Linked DNA regions of Homo sapiens. The protein of the gene in region 7 purifies or fractionates together with the protein of the main gene of each other region. This does not show direct contact. Each region holds a gene or a part of one and is shown on either strand. Other genes may lie near its edges. The genes, in order: ACTR6, PNISR, TPBG, SHCBP1, ZC3H14, GDA and SRSF11.

Region 1 (3,500 bases), on a different chromosome or scaffold from region 7:
GCTCATGCCTGTAATCCCAACATTTTGGGAGGCCAAGGCGGGCAGATCACTTGAGCTCAGGAGTTCAACACCAGGCTGGCCAACAAGGTGAAACCCTGTCTCTACTAAAAATACAAAAATTAGCCAGGTGTGGTGGTGGTGGCACACGCCTGTAATCCCAGCTACTCGGGAGGCTGCGGTAGGAGAATCGCTTGAACCTGGGAAGCGGAGGTTGCAGTGAGCCAAGATCACGCCGCTGCACTCCAGCCTGGGTGAGAGAACAAGGCTCCGTCTCAAAAAAAAAAAAAAAAAAAGTTCTTGAACAACCCTGAGTTAACTTCAAATCTCTTTTCATTCATCCTAAAAAAAATAGTACTTTTATGAGTGAAATAAGATATTCTGCCCACACAGTAGTGGCCAAAAAAACTTTATTAGCTTAGTCTCCACCCTTTTAAATGTACTCTAGGTACAAAATAAACATTATACACATATAAGATCAGTCTTTCCAACTTTAGAATGTATAAATAAGAATGACATTTTAAAATAAAATAGTTTAGTCACAGTCACACAAAACTACCTTCTAAGGAAAACTGTCCAGTGAAGCCGTTAAATTTGTGCTTTCAGCTATGAAGAATTAAACTTAAAATGCATTCATTCTTCTTTTAATGAAAAATAACCTACCCTTGGAAACAGCATAAGCATTGTTATGGTAGTCTAGCTCCTAAATGAAAATGTGGACTGAGTTACAGTTTACTGTAGTAACCTACCTAAGAAGCCTTTGAAAATTAGCAATCGATCAAAGTATTTACATAAATTCAAGCCTTTTTCTTAGGACAAAAGGTAACACAGTTCCTTAACCTCTTTTAAAAGGAACTTTGAAATTAAACCTTATGGTCACAACTTTCATTCAAAAATGTTGCTTAAATATCAAATTTCTCTTCACAGACGCTATGTCCATTTTCTTCGTAATCTTCTCTTGTTACCACCATATCTTCAAAATCATCATTCTCTGATATCAATTTTCCACCTTCCCAGGCATAAGTAATAGGGCTGAAAATAAAGGTATAAATGAACCCAGATGATTTTACAGGAAAACTGAAATGCCTGAAACATAAATTACTATTAGGTTGGTGCAAAAGTAATTTGTGTTTTTTTTGCCATTAAAATGTGGCAAGCTCTACCCAACCCAACAGAAAATTGTTTAAGGTACAGAAATAAGCATACATTTCATATGAGTAGAGCAACCCAAAAAGGAAAGGAACCTTGTTTACCGCTACAAAATAGTAAATGTTCCTTTTTCCCTATGTCCTGAATTTATGGACCCTCTAATTCTAAAGAAAAAACAAGGATATAAGCAAAAGATCAAAAGATGCCTAAAAGGAAAAACTGTCATACTGAGTCTAAATTCTGTATGTGGCAAAGATATGTCATCTCAATAATTCTCATAGCAACTCATAAAATAGCTATTACTCCCACTTTCTTTCTTTTTTTTTTTGAGACGGAGTCTCACTCTATCGCCCAGGCTGGAGTGCAGTGGCACGATCTCAGCTCACTGCAACCTCTGCCTCCCAGGTTCAAACGTTTCTCCTGCTTCAGCCTCCGAAGTAGCTGGGACTACAGGCACATGCCACCACACATGGCTAATTTTTTTTGTATTTTTAGTAGAGGTGGGGTTTCACCATGTTGGCCAGGCTGGTCTTGAACTCCTGACCTCAGGTGATCCACACACCTCGACCTCCCAAAGTGCTGGGATTATAGTTGTGAGCCACCACACCCAGCCTACTCCCACTTTCTAGATTTGAAAAATGAGGCTCAGAGAAGTTAAGTCTGGAACTAGAATTTAGGCTGGAACTAGGATTTAACTCAGAACTGTTTTCACAGTCTGTGCTTTTGCTGATAGACTTTGTTGCCTCTAATAAATGAAACAGAAAACATAGTGTATGATAAACAATTATGTGGGAAGACACAGACAATAGGTAAAATTAGAGCAGGTAAAACATCTAGTTTGGTTTTGCTATCTACAACCAAGGTTATACTATGTGTTATGACTCAATTCTGTTTCTACTATTCTTTTTCCCCAGTTTAGAGTTTCAAATCTGAAAAAGGTAAAGAAAAATGTTAAATCAATATTTTCTAGCCAAGTATGATGGCATATACCTGTAGTCCTAGCTACTTAGGAGGCTCAGGCAGGAGGATTGCTTGGACCCAGGAGTTCAAAGTTGCAGTGAGCTATGATCACACAAGTGACAGAGGGAGACTTTGTCTCTATTAAAACAAAGGTCGGTTATGGTGGCTCATACCTGTAATCCCAGCACTTTGGTAGGTCGAGGTGGGAGGACTGCTTGAGCCCAGGAGTTCAAGACCAGCCTGAGCAACATAGCAAGATCCCATCTCTACCAAAAATTTTAAAAATTAGCCAGGCATGGTGGCTCATGCATGCAGTCCCAGCTACATGGAAGGCTGTGGTGAAAGGATCACCTGAGTCCAGAGGTCAAGGGTGCAGTGAGCCGTGATCATACCACTGCACTCCAGCCTGGTAACAGAGCGAGACTGTGTCTCAAAAAAAAAAAAAAAAAAACCCAAAGCCAGGCGCAGTAGCTCACACCTGTAATCTAAGCACTTTGGGAGGCCAAGGCAGGCGGATCACAAGGTCAGGAGTTTGAGACCCGCCTGGCCAACATGGTGAAACCCCATCTCTACTAAAAATACAAAAATTAGCCAGGCATGATGGCATGTACCTGTAGTCCCAGCTATTCGGGAGGCTGAGGCAGGAGAATCGCTTGAACCTGGGAGGCGGAGGTTGTGGTGAGCCAAGACTGCGCCACTGCACTACAGCCTGAGCAACAGAGTGAGACTCCATCTCAAAAAATAAAAAAAAAATTGAAAAAAATTTTAAAAACCCCCCAAAACACAACTTGGCTGGGCTAAGGCAGATTACTGAGCCCAGGAGTTGGAGGCCAGCTTGGGTGAAACAGTGAGACTCCATCTCTACAGCAAAAAAAAAGGTTTTCTTTTCTTTCTTTTTTCCTTCTTTTTTTTTAGAGACGGGGTCAAACACTGTTGCCCAGGCTGGAGTGCAGTGACGCAATCCTAACTGACTGTAACCTCAAACTCCTGGACTCAAGCCATCTCCCTACCTTGGCCACCCAAAGTGGTAGAATTACAGGTGTGAGCCACCAAACCTGGCCAATAAATGTTTTATTGTATTTATATTTGCATTAAGCTTTTATAAAAATAGATTTATATATAAGTATACACATATATTTATACATATATAAAAGCAGTAGACGCACAATAAAAATTTATTTAATAAAATAATAAGACCTATTTCTGTGGATCCCTTGGCCTGTAATCTGTGCATGCAAGAGAAAAAGCCAATATGCTTTATAGTCTTAAGAACATATGAACATTAGTGGTGATAAAAATCATCCCAATATTTTTAAATTGTTTATTCATTTATCTCATAGCTATAAAAGAAAGTGATACCAATGAGGGCCTTCTATTAACTTGCTGATTTTGGA
Region 2 (4,202 bases), on a different chromosome or scaffold from region 7:
TTTTGCTACTTTATGTGACATGCATTTTAGTATATACTGAAATACTTGCAGCTTGTAGCTCAAAAGACTATTTTAAAAGTGGAGGACAAGCATGGCGGCTCATGCCTGTAAACCCAGCACTTTGGCAGGCCAAGGTGGGTTCATCACTTGAGGCCAGGAATTCGAGACCAGCCTGGCCAACATGGCGAAACCTCCACTCTACTGAAAATACAGAAATTAGCTGGGCATGGTGGCATATACCTGTAGTCCCAGCTACTTAGCAGGCTGAGGCAGGAGAATCACTTGAACCCGGGAGGCAGGGGTTGCAATGAGCCAAGATTGTGCCACCACTGCACTCCGGTCTGGGAAACAGAGTGACACTCTGTCTCAAAAAAAAAAAAAAAAAAAAAAACTGGAGAATTGGAGAGTCGGTTATAAATACCCCCCCAATAATAATTTAAAAATAAATGTAGCGAGAGCGCCCAAAATGACACCCTAGTAGCAACAAGCACACCTAGGCACGAGAACTTGGTTTTAATACCATTCTTCAATAAAAGGAATCAGAGATCTTTAAAGAAATAGCTGACTCTAGGACTGCGACAGGAAATATAAAAGATGAGTCTGGGGCATGTATACTGCCAGGAAGCAATAAAGTGCTAAAAAAAAAAAAATTGATAGGAACATGTCAAAGGAGAACAGTAGACAACTCGAAGAGCTGCCAATGGCCAAAGCTGGTACAATTTGAGCAACAAAATAAAGAAGTACTGGATTATAATATAAGTTATGTAATAAACATCCACAAGCCCATAAGGATATGATAAAATAAACTAACAAATAAATGTGAGGGAAGACACAAATCTCCCACAGAGAATTCCAAATAAATTATGTAAATATTCCACCCTAACTGAGGAAGAGCACAACTGTCCATTCAGTAAGCGTGGGCTCTGCAAAGTGACTTCCTTCCAAAGAGAACAGTATAAAAAGGGGTGGGGGAAGTAACTTTACAGTGGATAAATCTAACAAACGCTACTCCAGAAGGATGATCAAGGTCAGTAATAATGTGATAAGTCACCTTGATAGTATGTATCCTTGATAGCATGTGTTGAAAAGGGCATCTTACCTCTGTGATCTTCCCCTGATATAGTCCGTAAGGCCATTTTAATCATGAGAAAATCGTCTGGCAAATTCCAATAGCAGGGCACCCTACAATATACCTGACCATACTCCTCAAAAAATGTCAAGGTCACTGTATTAGTTTGGTATGCTTGCCATAACAAAGTACCAAAGACTGGGTGGCTTAAGCAACAGAAATTTATTTCCTCACTGTTCTGGAGGCGTATAGTGTAAGCTCTATGGGGTTGATTTCATTCTAAGGCCTCTCTCCTTGGCTTGTGGATGGTTGTCTTCTCCCTATGTCTTCACATGATCATCCCTCTGTATCCTACTCTCTTCTTATAAGGACAGCAGTTATTAATATATTGGGCTAAGGTCCACCCTAGTGACCTCATCTTCTTTAAAGACCCTCTCTCCAAATACAGTCACGTTCTGGGGTACTGAGGTTAGGACTTCAAGATACGAATTTTAGAGGGGCACAAGTCAGCCCTTAACAGTCATCAAAAACTAGTTAAGCCTGAGAAACTGTCACAGCCAAGAATATACAGCCTAAGAATATACAACAACTAAATGTAATGTGATATCCTAGCTGGCATCCTGGAACAGAAAAAGGACTTTAGGTAAAATGTGAGGAAGTAGGAATAAACTATGGACCTTAGTTAATAATTTATCATTATTGGTTCATTAGTTGCAACAAATGTACCATACTAACATCTATTAATAAGAAGATAAACTGTGTGTGTAGTGGGGACGTCGTATGTGCTCAACGTAAACAAAAACTGTTCTAAAACATAAAGTCTATTAGTAAGTTAAAAAAAAAAACTCTCAAGAACATCTTTAAAGAACTGTTTTCTCTATAAGCCCTTTGCCACTTTACAAAAAAATTCCACAAGTAAAATCTTTAGTAGTCTGGTTGCTGTTGTTTTCGCCCTGCTGCACTCAAATGAGGAATTCTAAGTTTATTTTGTTTTACTTGGGGGCAGGGGGAAGTAAAAAGATGTAAAAGATTAATGTTGAATTAAAATCTTAAGCTAGAATGTTAATTTAACAACCCACAAACAAATTTGTCTAATGCTCAATTTGTTCAGATGACGATACTATCCACCACAGGGTAAAAAACTGAAATATTGGATACTACCTTTAGCGAAGCTTAACACATAATATCCATCATTGGGTAAGAACACACGAAAAACACAAACTAAGGAACTGCGCCTGCGTAGTCAGAGCCTCAAAGGGTATAAGCTCCAGGTCGCGAGCCCCCGCCTCCTCCGCCCCCATGAACCCCCTTCCCACAAGGGGGTTCCCACTGCGCACGCGCAGTGTTTAACGGCCGGTCAGGAACCCAACAATTAGTCCCTTCTCGTCCGAGAGGAAACTCTGTGAGAAGATGGGACCGTGAGCACTCTCTTTAACAAGGACATTTCCTTTTCAGCGAAAGCAGCGCTCTGATTTACCAAGTCTGGCGGACCGCAGCGCTTTAAAGGAATGAGGTTCCAGCGGTCGCGCCAAGCAGCGTACGCAGCCTATTTTAAGTTATGCTACCTTCGCCACAGAAACCAAGAACGTTGTAATGGTCCGGCAAGTGCCCACGTATAATTGTTCTCCATCACTTACCCACTCTAGTTCGGGAACACCCTTGTCGCCGCCGTTCCGGTAACACCTCTCCAACGCTTTCGATGCTTCTACTTCTTCGGGAACAAGACAAGATGGCGCCCGATTTGTCTCACCCGGAAGTAAAGAATAATAACATCCGTTTGTCATCTGAAGCCATACCATCTCTCATCCAGGTTTGTGAACACGTGATTGTGCGGATTGACATGTTTCGGCGCCATTTTTTTTGTGGGCAAAACCATCTCTACTCTGGTCAACACCGGGCAACTGAACCATTCCTGCACGTTACTTTTTAACGTAGCTGGCGCCATTCCCGACCCATCTTTATAGTGGCCAGAAAGCCAAGAACGTAAGTGTTCTACACATAGGGCGCCTTCAAATTTTTTACTTTAGCAACGTGATCTTCCTTTAAGGGGAAGTATGTTCCCTCCTAGAAACACTCCCGCCTTGGAGAAGGGGTTGAGTTCGCAACTCCACTTACAGACTACGGAGGAACCCCAGGGTCAAACCAAACCAAACCAATTCTGGCCAGTTGCTTAGCGCAGTTCAAGTTACTTAGTGCGCTGGAAGCGGCATTTCAGGCAATCCAACTTCTGGCTCGAACCTTCTCGGAGTATTCCAAGGATGGAATACTCTCACTTGAGCGCTGCCGAGGGTGCCGCTTGAGGAAAACGTGAGTTTGTGAAGGTGAGCAGTCTGGGTCGGTAGCGAAAGCGGAGACCTTAGCTGACCCCGCAGCTGTCTTTCTCTTTGTTAACCTCAACACATCGCGCCCCCTTCCGGGAACACTTGCTCTTCTCTCCTTGGCTTAACTAGTCCCGGTTTTTCATTCTTTATCCGTGACTTTTAGGGAACCGTGGGGGGGAAGTCTGGTTTCCGTCCTGCTGCTTTCCTTCAACTACAAGATGGCTTCTCAAAAGGACGCATGCAATGCCATTCCTCAAAGACAGTATGTTGATTTCACAGTGTTTTTATATGAACAACGTTCAAGTGTCAAAAGTATCAATTTCCAGGCTAGGAGCTACAAGTTAAAAGGAAAACAAAAATGTTCCAAAGATACAGTGTTTATTAGCTACATCTTGGGAAGTGCCTTTCCAGAGAGTAACATGAAAACTTCTGCGTGACAAAGTGCACGAAGTATCTGAATTATTTCATTGGGCAATTGTCGTGCAAAAGAAATAGCAAATTACCGTAGAAACAAAATAGTAAGAGCACAGCTAGATGGATAAAGATACAGATGTGAAAATATAGATGCCCTTTGCATGAAAATTCAGTTTTCCTCAGCACTAGAGACCCAGATACTCCTGAATTAGCATTATAATAAAGTCGTCACTAGCTAACCATCTGCCTTTCCTCCAATCCACGGACGTGGTCCTCAAAATAACATTTTATCTTGTGAGAAACCTTCATTAATTACACCTAACAACACCATGACGCAGGTTCATGAGGATACTACTGAAGGCAAAAGGAAATCCCTATTTCTCTGACCCTTTCCCTAA
Region 3 (4,010 bases), on a different chromosome or scaffold from region 7:
TTATGAATAAAGTATTTTTCTCGAAAAAGTTGAGGCAGCTTTTGTTGAATGCTATCTGTGTGGGTACACTTGCTACACCTTGAACTGTACTGAGAGAGAGACAGACAGCAAGAAGCCCATGTTCATGCTGAAACCTGAAAAATCCCTCCATACGTGTTGAGGAGTTCCAAGAAAAAGAAGAGGGTAAAACACTATACACAACTGTTCATCGTCTTACATTAACAGAACACACCGAGAAACTTTACATAACAAGGAAGCAAATCCCCTTCACTGCTTTTAGTCAAAGTCCGTTGTATCTATAGTGGAGGATGAAAGTGGAGCAAGCCTAGTAGGGATAAAGCTTAAGTCTACATCTCATGCAGAGTTGTCCTTGGTCTGTCCTCTAATATTTCTCAGACATCCGAGTTAGAACTGAGGTTCGTTAATCTGGGGTCCGCATTGATTTCATATCTGTAATGATACCCTTCCATGTGATCCCTGCAGGCATCTCTGATGTTATGCATCCACTTTTTTATCCCCTTGCGGTTCAAATACAAAACCAGGAGGAAAATAGCGCCTATCAGGGCTAAAACAATACCCAGGAAGACATAAGAGGTTTGCAGGGATGGGGGAAGAATCGGGTCACAGTCCAGGTCAGCACTGTTGAGTTCCAAGAGGACCCGATTCCTCATTTTTTCCGGATATGCACAGGTGAGCCGGTCTTTGCCCTGCACTACCTCTGTTTCCTTGAGCCAGGTCACCATGTCTGCCATGTGGCAGTCGCAGACCCAGGGATTGTTGTCCAGGAAAACCCTAATGTGGGGTAGACCTTGCAACTCAGCCAGGGTGCCATTGTGAAGGACCTTGAGGGCATTGTCCTCCAGGTGGAGGCTTTCTAGATGTGTCAGGTTGCGGAAGGACACGTAGGTCAGGCTCACCAGCGAATTATTACTTAAGTCCAGGTGCCTGAGGCTGGGCAGTTGGGCCAGCACATCCCGCGGCAGGTAAAGGAAGTGGTTGCTGGCCAGCTCCAAGCGGCGGAGCCCCTGCAGTGCACGGCCCGCCAGCAGGGCCGCCACCACCATGCCCTCGAAGCTCCGGTTCTGCCGCTCATCTTCAGGGGGCACGATGTGGTTCAGGATCAGTTCCACAAGGGGACTGGGGGCCGAGACGCTGGCATTGCTGCCCGAGAAAGCGAAGGGACTGAGGTCGGCCAGTGGGTTGTGGCTGAGGTCGAGCTGGCGCAGGCTGGGCAGATGCTCGAAGGCGCCCGCGCGCACCTCGTCCAGGCGGCTGCCGCTGAGGTTGAGCGCGGCCAGCTCCGCCAGCGGCGGCCGGCGGGCGAAGGCGCCGGCAGGGAGCACGGCCAGCTGGTTGCCGGTAAGGAAGAGGTTGCGCACGTAGGCGGGCAGGTCCGTGGGCACCTCGGTCAGATTGCGGTTAACGCACTTGACTGTGCGCGCTGCCTCGGAGCACTCGCACAGCGCGGGGCACTGGTCCGGCAGCGGGGGCTGGGCGGACACGGCGGAAGCCAGGAACGGCGCCGAGGAGGAGAAGGAGGATGCCGAGGAGGTGGGAGAAGACGAGGAGACCCAGCCCAGGAGTACCAGCGCTAGTCGCGCCAGCCGCAGACGCCCGTCCCCGGCGGCGGGGCCCCGGGAGCACCCCCCAGGCATCGCGGCTCGCGTTTCCCCGGAGCTGGGCTGGGACGGCGCCCGCTCCGAAGGCTCGGGAGGCTGGGCCCGGAGGGCGCGAGCCGGCGGAAGCGTCTGGAAAAAAAAAACTTTCCTCTCGTGGAACCGAGGGAGTGGCGCCGCAGCCGGAACTTGGCTAACCCCCTCGCCACCGGGCGCTTCCCTCAGGGGCCGATTCCCCCGCCCCTTCCCTCCAGAAAGTACGCACGGCGGGTCGGGACGCTCCGCTCCGCGCTCCTGCTCCCGCTCCTCTTCCTGCCGCCGCCCTGGTGCCACCTCTTCGCCTCTTGTTGGCGCCCCTCGCTGGATCCTCTGAGGGACCTGGGACAAGCAGGAGAGAGGCGTGAACAGCGGTGGCTGCCGCGGCTTCCGGAGTGCAAAAACCGGCCTTTTCGAGTCTAGTCGTCTCCAGTCTGTCCCAGAGACCTCCTTCCAAAAGCCCGCCCCGGCCTCGCCTCCCCAACCCCTCCGGTCACTTTTACTCCGGAGGGGGACGCGCATCCGACACCCAGACCGCAAAGTCTTCCTTCTTCCCTGGCCCACACTAAATAAACCCGACCGGCCTCCCGCCCTCCGCCTTTCCCGAGGAGACTCGTCTCCCGCGTCTAACTTACCGCTTAATCCCCAATTCCTTCCCTACCAAACTTCTCCCTCTCCCGTTCCTTCCTGCACCGCCTCGGCGGAAGGTCGGCCTCCGGGTGTCTCCGCCCCCGCCCAGACCTCTCCACCAGGTCCCGGTTAGGATGCGAGGGAAGTTTCAGGTTACAGGACTTTTTGATCTCTTTTTGTACCTTCTCGCATTAGCAGGAAGTGGAGCTACAACTGTCGCCCCCCAGCCCGCGCCCCGCCAGCCCCTCGGATCTCAAAGGGGTTCAAGTCATCTCCAAAGAGGAGGGGAGAGTCTGGGAACAAAGCAGCAGTGGGACTCGGGGTACAGTGGCAACCCGAACCAACCCTACTCTCCACCCGAGGATGGGGAGGGGCCCCAACGACGCCTCCCGGGTCTCTCCCAGGCCGCGGGCTCCCACTGCTCACCTCCGCGTCCGCCGCCTCCAGAACCAACTCTGAGTTCCACCAGAGTAGCGACGACTTCCCGGCTCCGCGTTGCGGGCGCCGACTCTCTTCGCACCCCAGCCCCTGGCCCAACCTCCCAACCTCCGCAGCTGGGAAAAACCAACCCGGGGGGCGGGGGAGGGCCAGGACTGTCGGGGAGATTCCCGACGCGCGGCCAACCTCGGCAGCCGTAGGTAGGGGGATTTAAGAAGAGAGACTAGGGGAGCTGGGCTGCGCGCCTCCTCCTGGTGGAAATTAACGAGGAATGTGCCGGAAAAGGTGAGGGAATCCCTTTCTCTCCCCCCTCCCCGACATCCTTGGGTGGTTCCTCATTTTGCATACTGTATTTACCTTGGACTGGAGCAAAACCGCTGGTGAATCTCGTGGAATTCACCCTGATTCAGGCACCTTTGGCAGTGACGAGATAGATTTAGGCATGACAGAGCAGCGCGAAGCAGCAGCAGAAAGAAATGAGCTGAAAATCTACTGCGGCAGCAGCAAAGGCACGGCAGGTTGTATGGAAGCTTCAGAAGCTCTCCCCATCAAAGTGGTACTTGAGGCCGCAAACTTCAGATTTAGGTGTAATTAATGCCTTCCCGCCTGTCCCCCCCGCCCCCTCACTTCTTGGGTAGTGATGGAACTTGTGAAGAGAGCGCGCCAACTTTAAGAGAGAGAGAGAGAGAAAGAAAAAAAAAAGATTAGTGGAGAGGAGATTCATTCCTGATTCATTAGCTTTTCTCTTACCAAAATTAAAAGCAGATGGAAGAGAAAGGCAGCCAAAGGCATCCCAGAAACAAAAGGCAAATAGCAAAGACTTGAGTCTCCCGGAAAGCGGACCCGCCCCCCTCCCCAGATGTAGCGCGGTGTGTCAAGTCACTTCTGTGGAGAAAGCTCCAAGGATGAGGAGTGGGGATTGCAGGAGCTGACCTGGGAGAGAAGTTTGGTTTCAAAGTCGATTGTCCCAGGGGGCATCTGGCAGATGGTGATGGAGAGGATGGGGTTGGGGAGAGGGACAAATTGAATGGTTGGTTACCGGAAGGATCTGTTATTATACCAGACAGGTTTTGGGTTCTGAAAGCCCTATCGTTGCTCTCTGTAACTCCACATCCCCTTTGTCCCAATTAAATAATTTCCCCGAAGGGATAAGAAGGTTCTTCCAGGCTTCTTCATTTTAGAGAGAAAATGGCAATTAGGGAAAACATGGTTCGGAAATTTAAGACCTGGTCGTATTAAAAAAGATCAAATAAGGATCCTGAGGCTTGTGCCTGGGACATGTGCCTTTAG
Region 4 (3,500 bases), on a different chromosome or scaffold from region 7:
AAACCAAGTAAAAGATAAACAGGAATTCTTTATACACTTGACCCTTGAAGAACACAGGTCTGAATTTTGTGGGGTCCACTGATAATTTACACTGAGTGTGCCAGCATCTCCTGCCTCCCTTTCCACCTCTCCTCCACCTGTTTTGCCTCTGCCGCCCCTGAGGCAGCAAGACCAATCCCTCTTCTTCCTCTTCCTCCTCTGGTGAAGATGATGAGGATAAAGACCTTTATGATGATCCACTTCCACTTAATGAGTAGTAAATACATTTTCTCTTCCTTATGAATTTCTTAACATTTCCTTTTTTCTAGCACTTTATTATAAGATAATACACATAACATAGAAAATATGTCCTAATCAACTATTTATGTTAATGGTAAGGCTTCTTTTCTGGTCAACAGTAAGTTATTAGTAGTTAAGTTTTGGGGGAGTCAAATGTTATACTCAGATTTTTGACTATGTAGGGGTGGGGGGAGATAGGCACCCCTAACCCCCACATCATTCAAGAGTCAACTATACTAGTTTTGTCAGCTTTTCTATAAGTTTGAAATTATCATAAAATGATTTAAAACATTTTTAGACCAGGTGCACGGTGGGTCACACCTGTAATCCCAGCACTTTGGGAGGCCAAGGCAGGTGGATCACCTGAGGTCAAGAGTTCGAGACTGACCTGGCCAACATAGTGAAACCTCATCTCTACTAAAAATACAAAAATTAGCAGGACATGGTGGTGCACACCTGTAATCCCAGCTACTCGAGAGGCTGAGGCAGGAGAATTGCTTGAACCCAGGAGGCGGAGGTTGCAGTGAGCCGAGATCATGCCACTGCACTCCAGCCTGGACAACAGAGCAAGACTATGTCTCAAAATTAAAAAATAAAAAAAAAGATTTAAAACATTTTTAATTTTTTTTAATTTAAAAAAGATTATCCTATCTTTGGATATTTTTAAATATTGCAATGACCAAGTTTACAGTTGAGTTTTAAATCTGGGTCTAACACAGACCAGAATTACTTCATTTCATCCAAAGTTTCTGGCCACAAGGTTATTTTTCTCAACTTCTTTTCCTACCTGACATGCTCAATTGCAAGGGCTGTCTGGTCAAACACTCCTGAATCATCAAACACCACCCACAGCTCCTGCAGGGGCAACCGATGCTCCTTCAGATCAAGGAGCTCCTTCATGCACTCCATGGTAAAAGTGCTCACTTGAGAGTCACAGAGGTATGGTTCAGCAAGCCTCACCACTGCCTTCAAGGCTGCAAAGTCCACATCTGTGATCTGAAATTTAAAATAATGTGACTTAACACATGGAAATCAAAATGAAGATACACCTATAAGACACTACTGACAACCTGATTTTTTTAAAAGCATACAACATGGGTGGGGAGGCTTTACCCATAATATAAAGGATGAACAAGACAGGCTGCCTCTTACCCTCATGGAGCTTACACTGTAATCAGGGAGATCAACAAACACAATGATAACCAGTAGGTGACAGAGAATAACTAGCAGGGGTGGGGATCTTGTTCTGCTGAGATGGGCAAGGAAGTCAGCTCTGAGCCAGGCTGAGGAGGATGAGAAGGAAGCGGCCATCTGAAGAGCTGGGAAAGCACAGAAGGCCTGTGGCAGAGACAGGCTTGGCAGCTGGAGGAGCGGAAAGGCAGTCCTTCTTGCTGGAGCCAAAGGGAGGAAATGGAGGAGGGGGGCGGTGTGCAGTGGAGCAGCAAGATATGAGGTGAGAAAGAGAGGCAACGAGACCAGGACATGAAGGACATCTGAAGGAGCTTGGATTTTAAGTGTTTTCTATACAATGAGAAGCCATAAAGCCAACACTAAGCCCTTGGTAAAGACAATATCTTAGGAGTTTTAAGCAGAGAAATGGCATGCTTCTGTTTTAAAACAATGACTTTCATTGTTTTCGGAGAACTGATTGGCGGGGGGGCACTTATCATAACCAAATGAATAGGCCTGAACTTCAACCAAAAAATATTAGCACAATCCAAAATTTTAAAACTCACAAGCAATAGCTGCAATCCACTGCCTTGTACATAATCACTGTAGTATGTGATGCCATTTTCTAAGGGAGCTGCAGCAACAACTTGTATTCACACTCCCTGGTTTGACATTTTAGTTTACTAGGGCTTTTTGTGGTCAGTTAACAAACACTGAGAAAAATTCAAAGCTGTAATTAGAATGCAAATGTAATCTAAAAGGCCTAGTGAGAAGAAGAATAAGACTGTTTTTACATTCTGCAATGGGACACACTGTCAAGAGATTAACCACATATAAACAAATTTGCTAGGCAAAAACTGGGCTAGTTTAAAAATGCCTCTTAGCAGAGGTTGCAGTGAGCCGAGATCGTCCCACTGCACTCCAGCCTGAGCAACACAGTGAGACTTCATCTTAAAAAAAATAAATAAATAAAAATGCCTCTTAGGTTTGAGCTGCTTAACGAATTACAATTAAGAAGTTAAACACTTTTTTGAAACCATTAACTTCATAATTAGGCCTAATTTTTTAAGTGATCTCAAATACCTTCTTTTAATTAATTTGAACCAGTTTAATTCCCTGGTAACAACTCCTCAGTTGCCTTTAAAATTTGCAGAACACTTCCTACAACATGGCAATTAGATGTGAAAAACATGCTATTTGAATCAGCTCATAAACTTTAATTAAAAATAAGCACTTTGGATATAACAGTCTGAAGTAAAGTGCTTAAAGCTAGAGACAAAGGTCTAATAACAAAATTAACCTTACCTCAACCAGCACCTTGAACACATTAGTGTGCCAGACTGCCCGCCATCCAGATGGCTCAAGGACCTTCTCCAAGAACTCAGCTGTGAATTCCTGTACCTCAGAGGCCTTGCAGTCAGCTACAAACAAATTAAACACAGGAAGAATTGAGAATGCATAAAGCAGAGGGAAGTTAATAAATCCACTTTCTCAGAAACAACTGGCAATCTGAGGGACTGAAATAGATAATCTACTTGCAAACTAAAAAGATAAAAGATGCAAAAAACCAGCCAGGCAGTGGCTCATGCCTATAATCCCAGCACTTTGGGAGGCCGAGGCAGGGGGATCACCTGAGGTCGGGAGTTCAAGACCAGCCTGACGAAAATGGAGAAACCCCGTCTCTAGTAAAAACACAAAATTATCTGGTGGTATGGCGCATGCCTGTAATCCCAGCTACTAGGGAGGCTGAGGCAGGAGAATCACCTGAACCTGGGAGGCGGAGGTTGCGGTGAGCCGAGATCGCACCATCGCACTCCAGCCTGGACAACAAGAGCGAAACTCCATCTCAAAAAAAAAAAGCAAAAAACCTACTCACCTAAAATGTAATCTTGATAGGCTCTGAATCGCTCATAGAACAAAAGTTGATTTGTTTGGAAAATTTCTGGGAAAAAGGTTTTTCCTTCTGGCATAAAACTTTGTAAACTAGAACCTGGTTTATCACGGTAGCTACAATCACTGCATGAATCTTCATCTTGGAACAAACCTAAAAA
Region 5 (3,030 bases), on a different chromosome or scaffold from region 7:
CCCCCTTGTCCGCCTCCAGTAACCACTATTCTACTCTCCACCTCTGTGGGATCAACTTTTTTAGTTTCTGCACAGGAGTGAGAACATGTATTTATCTTTCTGTGCCTGGCTTATTTCACTTCACATCATGTCCTCCAGTCTCATCCATGTTGCCACCAAGAATGACAGAATTTCATTATTTTTTATGGCTGAGTAGTATTTCATTGTTTGTTTACTGCACGTTTTATCTAGGGAATGTGTGTTTTTTTAAAAAATGGAGACAGCTGTCCTAATATGAGTCAACTGCCAAGGGCTTTCAATTATGTCTACTAGAGTTGTTAAATTGGCAGATTCTAGAAAATATTGGAGGTTTACATACAGTATTTAGACAGAATAGCTTCCTAGCTTATGCACCACACTGGTGCTAACTTTGGCAAAGAAAGCAGCAAAGACAGAGTAATGTTGGCAAGCAAATCCATCGTTATGCATTATTAAGTATTGTTCATTAGGCTGCAAAGGGTGAGGGAATCACAGTAATAACCACTTTCTGTTTTCTGCTGCACTGTATCAGCTCATGGAACATCTTACTTTGCCTCTGCACACAGAACGAACACAATCTGTGGCTTGTCCTGTCTCAAGCCTGAAGGCACGGCACCGCCTCAGTTCCTGATCCCACAGTTTAACCGCTCCTCCTTCTTTTGACCTAAGTAAATAACCAAGCCAGAGTAAGTGTTCATTATTGGCTACTATAATTTTTATTATAAACAAATACCAAGTTATAAGCAGAATCTTTTTTTTTTAAAAAGGCCCTGATATTTATAATTTACCTCTAATATTCTTGTAAACTTTCTATGGCAATTTGAGGATATACTATATCTCAGTCAAAATAAACATCCAGTTTCAGTGAATTTTATTTTGAGAAATACTCTTTTTTTCTGACATGAGCATAATTTTATTTAGCCTCTACAATACATTACAATACATTATCCTCTCTCATAATACTTTTTTTTTTTTTTTTAAGATGTAGTCTCGCTCTGTCTCCCAGGCTTGAGTGCAGTGGCATGATCTAGGCTTATTGCAACCTCTGCCTCCCAGGTTCAAGCGATTCTCCTACCTCAGCCTCCCGAGTAGCTAGCATTACAGGTGTGCACCACCACACCCAGCTAATTTCTGTATTTTTAGTAGAGATGGGGTTTCACCATGTTGGCCAGGCTGGTCTCAAATACCTTGACCTCAGGTGATCTGCCTGCCTCGGCCTCCCAAAGTGCTGGGATTCCAGGTATGAGCCACTGTGCCTGGCCTCATAATACTTCTTGATTAGGAAGATGTAAAAAAACAATTTTATTAAAAGGATAATGGAAATGTAAGGCAAAATAATAGAATTACAAATGCTATGCTACAGAGTTGATTTATTTATTTTTTTGAGACAGAGTGTCGCTCTGTCACCTGGCCTGGAGTGCAGTGGTGTGATCTCGGCTCACTGCAACCTGTGCCTCCCAGGTTCAAGCGATTCTTCTCCTTCAGCCTCCCAAGTAGCTGGGATTACAGGCACCATGCCTGGCTAATTTTTGTATTTTTAGTAGAGATGGAGTTTCACCATATTGGCCAGGCTGATCCCAAACTCCTGACCTCGTGATCCGCCCACCTCGGCCTCCCAAAGTGTTGGGATTACAGGCGTGAGCCACTGCAACTGGCCCAGAGCTTATTTTTGAAGGCCAAAACAGAAGCATATTTATTCCCTATCAGGTGTTAAAATATCTCACTGGAACAGTTTAGCAGGCTTCTAGTGAGTGGGGGTGTGCAGGAGTAAATGACGTGGGAAATACAAGTGTTGGAGGACGAAATAGAGCCCATTTATGGATTTTATTCCTGGAAGGGCTGAAAAATGTATTCCTTCCTTTTCTGCTAGATGAATTGCTTGTCTGAAAGCATGCCTATGTGCATTCTTCCTTTATGTAAAAGGCACAAATTCTGCGCTTGTGTTTAATTAACATATGTGGGTTCTTTCAATCCTGTATTGAAATGTACTTCTTAGTCAACTATATGTCACATTTTTTTTTGTTTTTGTTTTTGTTTTTTAAATGGGGTCTCACTCTGTCACCCAGGCTGGAGTGCAGTGGCACCATCACAGCTCACTAAAGCCTTGACCTCCCCAGGCTCAAGTGATCCTCCCACCTCAGCCTCCTGAGTAGCAGGGACTACAGGCATGTGCCACCACACCCGGCTAATTGTTGTTTTTTATAGCGATGGGGTTTCACCATGTTGCCCAGGCTGGTCTTGAACTCCTGGGCTCAAGCGATCCACCTGCCTCAGCCTCCCAAAGTGATAAGATTACAGGTGTGAGCCACTGTGCCTGGCCTACATGTCATGTTTCAACATGCATATGACTATGTTGGTGACAAATCAAATCATAAGTATCTGGTTACTGTTGGGAGATTTGAAAATCACTCAGAAGAGACCTCTTCTCAAATTTTGAGGTCTTGTATAAAACAGTTTAAATTTGCCTCAAGCAAAAGGAAACAAGGCAGTTCTCTCTAGTTCCCTCATCCTTTTCTAAAGCAACAATGTGCATTCTACTCCTTAGAATCCATTCTGAACAAAAAGAGAGCAGGCAGTCAAAATACAACCCTGGCTCCAGATTCCCCCATGGGCCTCCTACTCAGCAAATCATACACAGGCATACAGACATTAAGAAAAGTAACTCAACTTGTAGGACAACTACCTATCCACACCTCAGAAAAAGTATCACCCCAACATGAAAAAAATTGGAAGTGAATTAAGACCAGAAATGAGAATCAAATAGAAGGCACATAAAAGGTAATAAAGGAGAAGCATATGAGGAGGAAGGTCGGAGAGGACACTCTGTGTAGCCTAGAAACAACTAGAATAATTAACTGCAAACCTCAGGTAGGTCACAAATGCATAAATATTCTGTGAAAAGAAAGAGGACTCACGGCCTTTCCTTTCCCCCAGTCACGATAAGTCCATCTCGCAGGGTGGTGTACATGGCAAACACAGGCCCGTTGTGAGCTCTCGCCACGATTCTACACA
Region 6 (3,500 bases), on a different chromosome or scaffold from region 7:
TATCTATGGGGTACATGTGTATACATTTCTTAAATTAGAGTAAAGCCTAGTGTGTGTGTGTGTGTGTGTGTGTGTGCGTGTGTGTGTGTGTGTGTAGTTAAAAATGGACCCGAAGTTTCATCTTAGTGAATTAAATGTAAAGGCTTCATTGAAGATGGGAATGTCATTTGGTCCAAGGACATTTTAACAGTATCTATTAGAATGTAAACCTACATTTCTTTGAGTCAGCAGATGCATTTCTAAGAATTCACTCTAAGTAATATGAATAGGGATGCTAATTTTATATTAAAGTTTAAAAATTGTTATCGGTGAGGGATTAAATTACAGAGCATACATAGGATTTTATCCAGCATTCACAAAGAAAGAGGTATGCAGGCTTACAAGGAAGAATGTTTGTGTAATATTATTTGATGTGTATGTACATATGTATAGATGCATGCTTACTTAGAAAAAAACTGTCTGAAAGACACAACTTGAGTATTAAAAATGACTCTTCCTGAGGGACAAACCAGAAGGACTTTCTGCTTTTTATTTTTAAATACTCTGAGAGTGCTTTTAAAAAATGAGTATGCATTACTCCTATAATTAAAATTAATATGTGTGAAGAGACCTCATTACAATAATGTACTACTTGGCCTTGGCCTTCAATGAAATGTACAAACCGCATGGAGAGTTTACCATAGCAAATAATTTCTTAGTGACTGTGTGAATGGAGATATGAATATAACTGATTTAAAAGGTTAATACTTTGCATAAATCATGTAAAAGCTACACCATAGTTTTCATTCTTTATATATTTTCCATATGATTAATAAATTAACCTTCCATTTGCATGTTAATTTTATTTGAACAGAGATTGGGAAAGTTATATTTTAATAATAATTCTGTAGTCACTGGGCCGGGCCTGGTGGCTCATGTCTGTAATCCCAGCACTTTGGGAGGCAGAGGCAGGCAGATCACGAGGTCAGGAGATCGAGACCATCCTGGCTAACACGGTGAAACCCCGTCTCTACTAAAAATACAAAAAAATTAGCCAGGCGTGGTGGCAGGCGCCTGTAGTCCCAGCTACTCGGGAAGCTGAGATAGGAGAATGGCGTGAACCCAGGAGGCGGAGCTTGCAGAGAGTCGAGATTGCGCCACTGCACTCCAGCCTGGGCGACAGAGTGAGACTCTGTCTCAGAAAAATAATAATTCTGTAGTCACTGAACCGTGCCTCTCAAAGGGGAAAGCAAGTTGGGTACAGGTTTTGTACTGAGAGAAAAATAATTTTGAAAGAGTAAAGTCTTATTTAAGAAAATCTACAAATAAATACTACCAACATTAAAAATTTAGAGAGGTCTCATGTGTGTGCAGTGCCTGCTTTCTTGGATCAATTTTACTTTCTGAATTAATGATTATAAGATGTTAAATTTCCTAGTTTTTATGAAAATATAAACGTAGGTGAGTTAAAAGTTTATTTAGTTGAAAATATCAAGGCCATTGGCACTTACATTGAAGCTAGGAGCAGAAATAAAGAACAGCGCTTTGCAGGATTACTCTCACAGCTTTCACATACTGAGAAGGGACTTTTAGTTCTAGAAAGTTTTTTTAGAATTGGAGCAAGCACAACACTACCAGTTGCTTCCCATATAAACTTAGAAAAGAAAGTAACTTGACAGTCTTCTAAAGTAGAGATGAGAAAATCATGTTATCTTCCATCTGGATGGATATTCTGTGCTGTAGATCACCTGGACCAAACCCTCATTACTTTATAGATCAACAAAAAGAATCTAAGTAAACTCCACAAATTTCCTGAGACTTTCGTAAGACAATGTGTTTACAGGCCTTTTCTAAGGTATAACTTGTACCTAGCAACTTTGTACATATAGATCATCATAAATGTTCTTGTGAAGATGCTAACAGCCAAGCTACAGCTTCGGTCTCTCTCTAAAATACCTTGTGAGTGAGTACCCACTTAATCATTTGTGAGCGGTAAACTCCACGTAGGGCACTCTTCTCTCCAGACAGTGATGGCACACGGCTGCTACCTCTCTGCAGAAGAACTGAACGTATTCCATGAACGAGGAGCATCCATCGCACACTGTCCCAATTCTAATTTATCGTAAGTAGACAATGATTGTTTGGTAGATTACGAATGATTGGGTTGCAGATTAGCAGCCAAATGCCTTTGTTTCCTCTGTCATTCCTCCAGGATCTCCCCTCTATTCTGTGTTTGGCAGGACCCAGATAGATAGACATTTACTCGTGCTGTTGAGGAGTAAAAGAGAACACGTAAGAGGACATTTATCTCAGAGGACACGTGAAGAGCACAGCATCTTCTGAAATCTCTGAGTTTGTACAAAAAAAGGACAATAGGGAATACAACATAAAAAATTTACAGTGAAAGTACTGAAAGAACCCATATGTCAGCCAGGAAATCCAGAAGAGGGTAGTCACTCCCATTACTGTTTGTGCTGTAGTGTGAGAAGGAAACACAGCAATACCAAAGCAAATGCACTATGATGTATGTTACCCTGTTGGACCTGACGGAATGCCAGCCCACACAGGCAAGCCCAGGAGGACCTTGTCCTATTATAATTCCCCAGAATACAGAGGTGTTATTTATTAACTGGTTCTTAACCTTTTGAAAGGTGATGGATCCGTAAATGAATAAAATGAAAGTTATTGCCTGGGCGCAGTGGCTCACATCTGTAATCCTAGCACTTTGGGAAGCAGAGGCAGGCAGATCACTTGAGGTCAGGAGTTCAAGACCACCCTGACCAACATGGTGAAACCCCATCAGTATTAAACATATAAAAATTAGCTGGGCATGGTGGCAGGCACCTGTAATCCCAACCACTCAGGAGGCTGAGGCAAGAGAATCGTTTGAACCCGGGAGGCGGAGGTTGCAGTGAGCCAAGATTGCACCACTGCACTCCAGCCTGGGTGACAGAGTGAGACTCTGTCTCAGAAAAATAAATAAGTTATAGCCTGTAATTTCAGGGGAAAAAAGCCCATGGATATTACAAGTGTTGCATCTAATTTCAGGGAATTCATAGATCTCATGATGCCAGTCCATGGATGCTAGGTTAAAAACCCATGCTTGTGGCTGTAATCTCAGAAAACAACTTCAGGGGTCGGGCGTGGTGGCTCACACCTCTAATCCCAGCACTTTGGGAGGCCAAGGTGGGCGGATCACGAGGTCAGGAGATCGAGACCATCCCGGCTAACACGGTGAAACCCAGTCTCTACTAAAAAAAAAAAAAAAAAAAAAAAAAAAATATTAGCCGGGCATGGTGGCGGGCGCCTGTAGTCCCAGCTACTCGTGAGGCTGAGGCAGGAGAATGGCATGAACCCGAGAGGCGGAGCTTGCAGTGAGCCGAGATCGCGCCACTGCACTCCAACCTGGGCGACAGAGCAAGACTCCATCTCAAAAACAAAACAAAACAAACAAACAAACAAACAAAACCTTCAGGGAAGTAAAACAGGGAAGGGAAAGAAGTCAGTGAAGATCGTATCAT
Region 7 (3,500 bases):
TGTAGACAATTTAAATTCTATCCAACAGCAAAAGCCCTATACAGATGGATTAATCTGTTAATGTGCCCAAGCCCCCAAAATGAGAGTTCAATAATACAATTAAACTACATATTTGCAAATACCAGTAGTATTTCTGTAATACATATTAAGAAACTGCATCTCATCATAAAACATACAATATGTACAGGGCACTTAAGAGAAACTGGATAAGCTGCAGAAGAAAACTGTTGGGTGGTATTTTCAGCAGGGCCTGGTATATAGTTCAGGCTGAACCAGGGAAAAGAACTGTAAAACACAACAACAAAAAAGAAAAACCACTGTTAAATAAAGGTAATGGTTCCTTCCACCTATACTGAGAAGTGCCGATAATATAAACAAATGTATACTACACAGCACTGTTATCTTGCTTGTGTCAGAGCTGTCATCAATTTAGATACCAAGAGTTATGGAGGGGAAGGGGGAGAAGATCATTTAGATATAGGGCAGTAATGCATCAATATTAACAAACCTACAAAGATTATGGGATAATTTTGCATGCAAAATTATGTCTCAAGAGGATATATTCAGTATCAACATCTTACTCAAATTAGTGCATTTGCAACATTTCTGGCAAACTAAAATCCTCTTGAATTTATTGTGAGACACCTGATAGAAGATCTGCATCCATTAAAAAAAAAAAAGTCATGCATCTGATCCTCTGATTAAAAAAAGACTATTTAAAAATAAAACTACAATTTAAAAATAGCAATGAGGCCCCTCACCAGTTAATTTTCATGCGTCAAGAGTATTTTTTTTACTGCTGCTTTGATAGAACCATGAAATACTGCATGAATGTGTAGAAATGAAAGAAAAAGAAACAGACAAAAGAAACAAACATTAACCAAGGAACCTAAAAAATCCCCAAATCCATTACTATTAAGAGTTCCTTCCAAATTCAGCTATCTTAGTTTTACCAATTAAGACTATTCCTTACCGTAGACTATGTCTACTGTTCTAAAACACTGACCAAGAGCTAACACCGAAGTGTAATAGCTAAATCTGGAGGGAATTGTATTTACTGGAGGTAACATTAATACAGCATATCATACCAGAATTAAATTCACCAACAATAGAATTCTGAATGAAATATTCCCCTAATTCTATATACTGTATATTCCTAAATACTTCACTTCCAAAAATAGGTCTAGAAAAATTACTATGGCCTGAAAATATTTATGAAAGTCATTTATATGATATACTGTATTATGTTCAGGGATTGGGAACTATAATACTTAGCCAATAAAAAATTTAAATTTACAGGCTAACCAAAATGTTTTACATATTACTCACATGATTTGACCCTTGTTCCAAGACCTATACTCTATTTTATTCATCCTGAATTTGAATTCTGTAAATTTTCTGTTGATGGTCTTATCCTACAACAGGCACACTGACATAAAAGAAATTGCTTAACCAAAACACACTAACTCAAAAATTTATCTATCTATACATTACAAAACCTTAAAACTGGGCTCATACACTTTAATATCATGGAGACAGAGGTACTATTACATAACATGTCTTAACCCATTTATAAATATAAGTTAATTTCTTTAGAAAACCAGAGGCAACTTCTCTGTTAAGGACTAGACATTTCACAACTTTTACAAGGTATGGTGTAAATGCTCACATTTGTTTTCAAAGATTTCAGATAGCATCTAAAATGAACAATATTAAGATTCCACTTCCACTGACCAGTTTATTAAGGAAAGGGGAAAGCATTTAAATCCTGGTCAGCATATTAAATTATTAACTTAAAATCCAGCAGTTTTATCATATTTCAGTGATTCGAGTAAAATTTATAGTTACCAAAATGCAAATCAAGTAGCAGTACATTGGGAACAAACTAATTATAAAATACGCCTTAGAAAATTTTACAAAATGGTATTAAAATTTCTTGTCACAGTGGCTTTTTAGATCCAAAAAACCTGCTCATTTTTTTCTGTCAAATTACTTTAACAGCCTAAAATGTAAAAAGAGAGAAAATGTAGTTAACAAATGGTTACACCAGGAAAACACTTGGGGCACTTGAGTGCTTGCTGGCCTTTAGTTAATGTCTAGAATCCCCTGTAGCTGCAGAGGACCCACTGTTTTTCAGGCATCTGGAAGGGTTTTGCATTTGCCTTCTCCACTATAAAAATCACACACACAAATAACAGAGAGAAGAATTTATTATTTAGAGATATTCTAGAAATATAGCAAGAATGAACAAGAAAATCTGGCATAAAATAAAACACCCAGTGCCCATTTGGCACCTAAGCTACAGGAAATCTTGAACTTTCACGAAAACCAAAATCACTGCAACCCTTGGTATACTGAAATTCAATGTGTTTTTTTTTTTTCCAGATTATCAATGTGAGGAAGCTTTAAGAAAATAAAATCAACCTACTCATTTATTTAAAACAGAAATAACATCATGCATTTATTTGAAGGCTCTGTAAGCATACATGGAGTGAATCATTTACCTTCAGGGCTTTTTCATAAAACTTAACATTAAATTAACTAAGTAGATGTATCTCAGGGAGTTACAATAAGGGACATGGTTTTAAACAACTTAAAAATGTTTTAAAAGAAAACAAAAGGTAAATACCTTATAATAACAGACCTAATTTCTAATTTTTAGAATTAAAAAAAATCTGCAAGCAAAAATTACGGACTGCAGTATAACAAGGGTTTAAAAATGTTAATAGCTTAGATTTAACATGCTACTAATGCTCACTCTACATCTACTGAGGTAGATGGTCATCTTAGGATGCCCACATAGGTAGTTAAACAAAGCACAAACCTTCTGCATATGGTACGACTATCAAAGCTCTGTCAACGAATACAGTGTTTGTCAGATGCTGTGCCACAACTGCTGAGTCTGGATCATGGAACTTAACAAAGCAGACACGAGATGAGACTGGCAAAGGCGAATCACTAAAAAATAAACAAATAACATAAAAGAGAAACAGAATAGCAGTTAAAACAAATGCTAATTCACAAACCAACACATTTCAAAAGTAAAACAGATTAAAAAAACCTAACTGTATACTAATGTAGTTAAATTCAAAAGAAAACATTCTCAATCATATACTGTTCACTGAAATAATGTAGTGAATTGCAGTTCAGATAAAAACTTATAATCATAACTTATATTTACAGTGTATCAGGTTAAAAACAATTTGGTACTGAAGTCTCAGAGACTGAGGGGACCACAAAATTGTCAACAGTTTCTTTATAATACCAATACCAGCTATTTTTAGATACAGGTAACAGTAGTTTGGGGCTTAGAAACTTCCTAATGGCTTTCTCAGAGTAAGAAAGATGAACAATTTTTATATCAGGGACAAATGAATATCATGAGAACGAACATGTACTCAATAATCAATGAGTTTTCTTGAACTGCATAAAATAAACAGGTTCCATGCCCTGCACTCTTTTACCCACAGCATGTAAGAACTCTTATGCACTGTAAATAA

What was found.
Region 1: the proteins of SRSF11 (region 7) and ACTR6 fractionate together in Homo sapiens (co-fractionation; one large-scale study listed by BioGRID). This does not show direct contact.
Region 2: the proteins of SRSF11 (region 7) and PNISR fractionate together in Homo sapiens (co-fractionation; one large-scale study listed by BioGRID). This does not show direct contact.
Region 3: the proteins of SRSF11 (region 7) and TPBG fractionate together in Homo sapiens (co-fractionation; one large-scale study listed by BioGRID). This does not show direct contact.
Region 4: the proteins of SRSF11 (region 7) and SHCBP1 fractionate together in Homo sapiens (co-fractionation; one large-scale study listed by BioGRID). This does not show direct contact.
Region 5: the proteins of SRSF11 (region 7) and ZC3H14 purify together in Homo sapiens (affinity purification with mass spectrometry; one large-scale study listed by BioGRID and IntAct). This does not show direct contact.
Region 6: the proteins of SRSF11 (region 7) and GDA purify together in Homo sapiens (affinity purification with mass spectrometry; one large-scale study listed by BioGRID and IntAct). This does not show direct contact.

Annotation. Positions count from the first base shown.
Region 1 is NC_000012.12:100,221,315-100,224,814, reverse strand, and holds the end of ACTR6 (actin-related protein 6), read right to left. Parts: intron 1,030-3,500; coding exon 900-1,029; 3' UTR 391-899; downstream 1-390. UniProt on the Homo sapiens protein: Required for formation and/or maintenance of proper nucleolar structure and function. Plays a dual role in the regulation of ribosomal DNA (rDNA) transcription.
Region 2 is NC_000006.12:99,422,509-99,426,710, forward strand, and holds the start of PNISR (arginine/serine-rich protein PNISR), read right to left. Parts: upstream 2,801-4,202; 5' UTR 2,707-2,800; intron 2,607-2,706; exon of another isoform or gene 2,363-2,606; intron 1-2,362.
Region 3 is NC_000006.12:82,362,607-82,366,616, reverse strand, and holds the start of TPBG (trophoblast glycoprotein precursor), read right to left. Parts: upstream 2,801-4,010; 5' UTR 2,709-2,800; intron 2,374-2,708; exon of another isoform or gene 2,288-2,373; intron 1,995-2,287; 5' UTR 1,656-1,994; coding exon 393-1,655; 3' UTR 1-392. UniProt on the Homo sapiens protein: May function as an inhibitor of Wnt/beta-catenin signaling by indirectly interacting with LRP6 and blocking Wnt3a-dependent LRP6 internalization.
Region 4 is NC_000016.10:46,614,880-46,618,379, forward strand, and holds part of SHCBP1 (SHC SH2 domain-binding protein 1), read right to left. Parts: intron 3,494-3,500; coding exon 3,326-3,493; intron 2,871-3,325; coding exon 2,755-2,870; intron 1,276-2,754; coding exon 1,067-1,275; intron 1-1,066. UniProt on the Homo sapiens protein: May play a role in signaling pathways governing cellular proliferation, cell growth and differentiation. May be a component of a novel signaling pathway downstream of Shc. Acts as a positive regulator of FGF signaling in neural progenitor cells.
Region 5 is NC_000014.9:88,622,037-88,625,066, forward strand, and holds part of ZC3H14 (zinc finger CCCH domain-containing protein 14), read left to right. Parts: 3' UTR 1-567; coding exon of another isoform or gene 568-682; 3' UTR 683-2,933; coding exon of another isoform or gene 2,934-3,030. Other genes in the region: EML5 (echinoderm microtubule-associated protein-like 5), read right to left, coding at 568-682, 2,934-3,030. UniProt on the Homo sapiens protein: RNA-binding protein involved in the biogenesis of circular RNAs (circRNAs), which are produced by back-splicing circularization of pre-mRNAs.
Region 6 is NC_000009.12:72,225,940-72,229,439, forward strand, and holds part of GDA (guanine deaminase), read left to right. Parts: intron 1-2,003; coding exon 2,004-2,101; intron 2,102-3,500. UniProt on the Homo sapiens protein: Catalyzes the hydrolytic deamination of guanine, producing xanthine and ammonia.
Region 7 is NC_000001.11:70,227,880-70,231,379, reverse strand, and holds part of SRSF11 (serine/arginine-rich splicing factor 11), read right to left. Parts: intron 2,959-3,500; coding exon 2,825-2,958; intron 668-2,824; exon of another isoform or gene 1-667. UniProt on the Homo sapiens protein: May function in pre-mRNA splicing.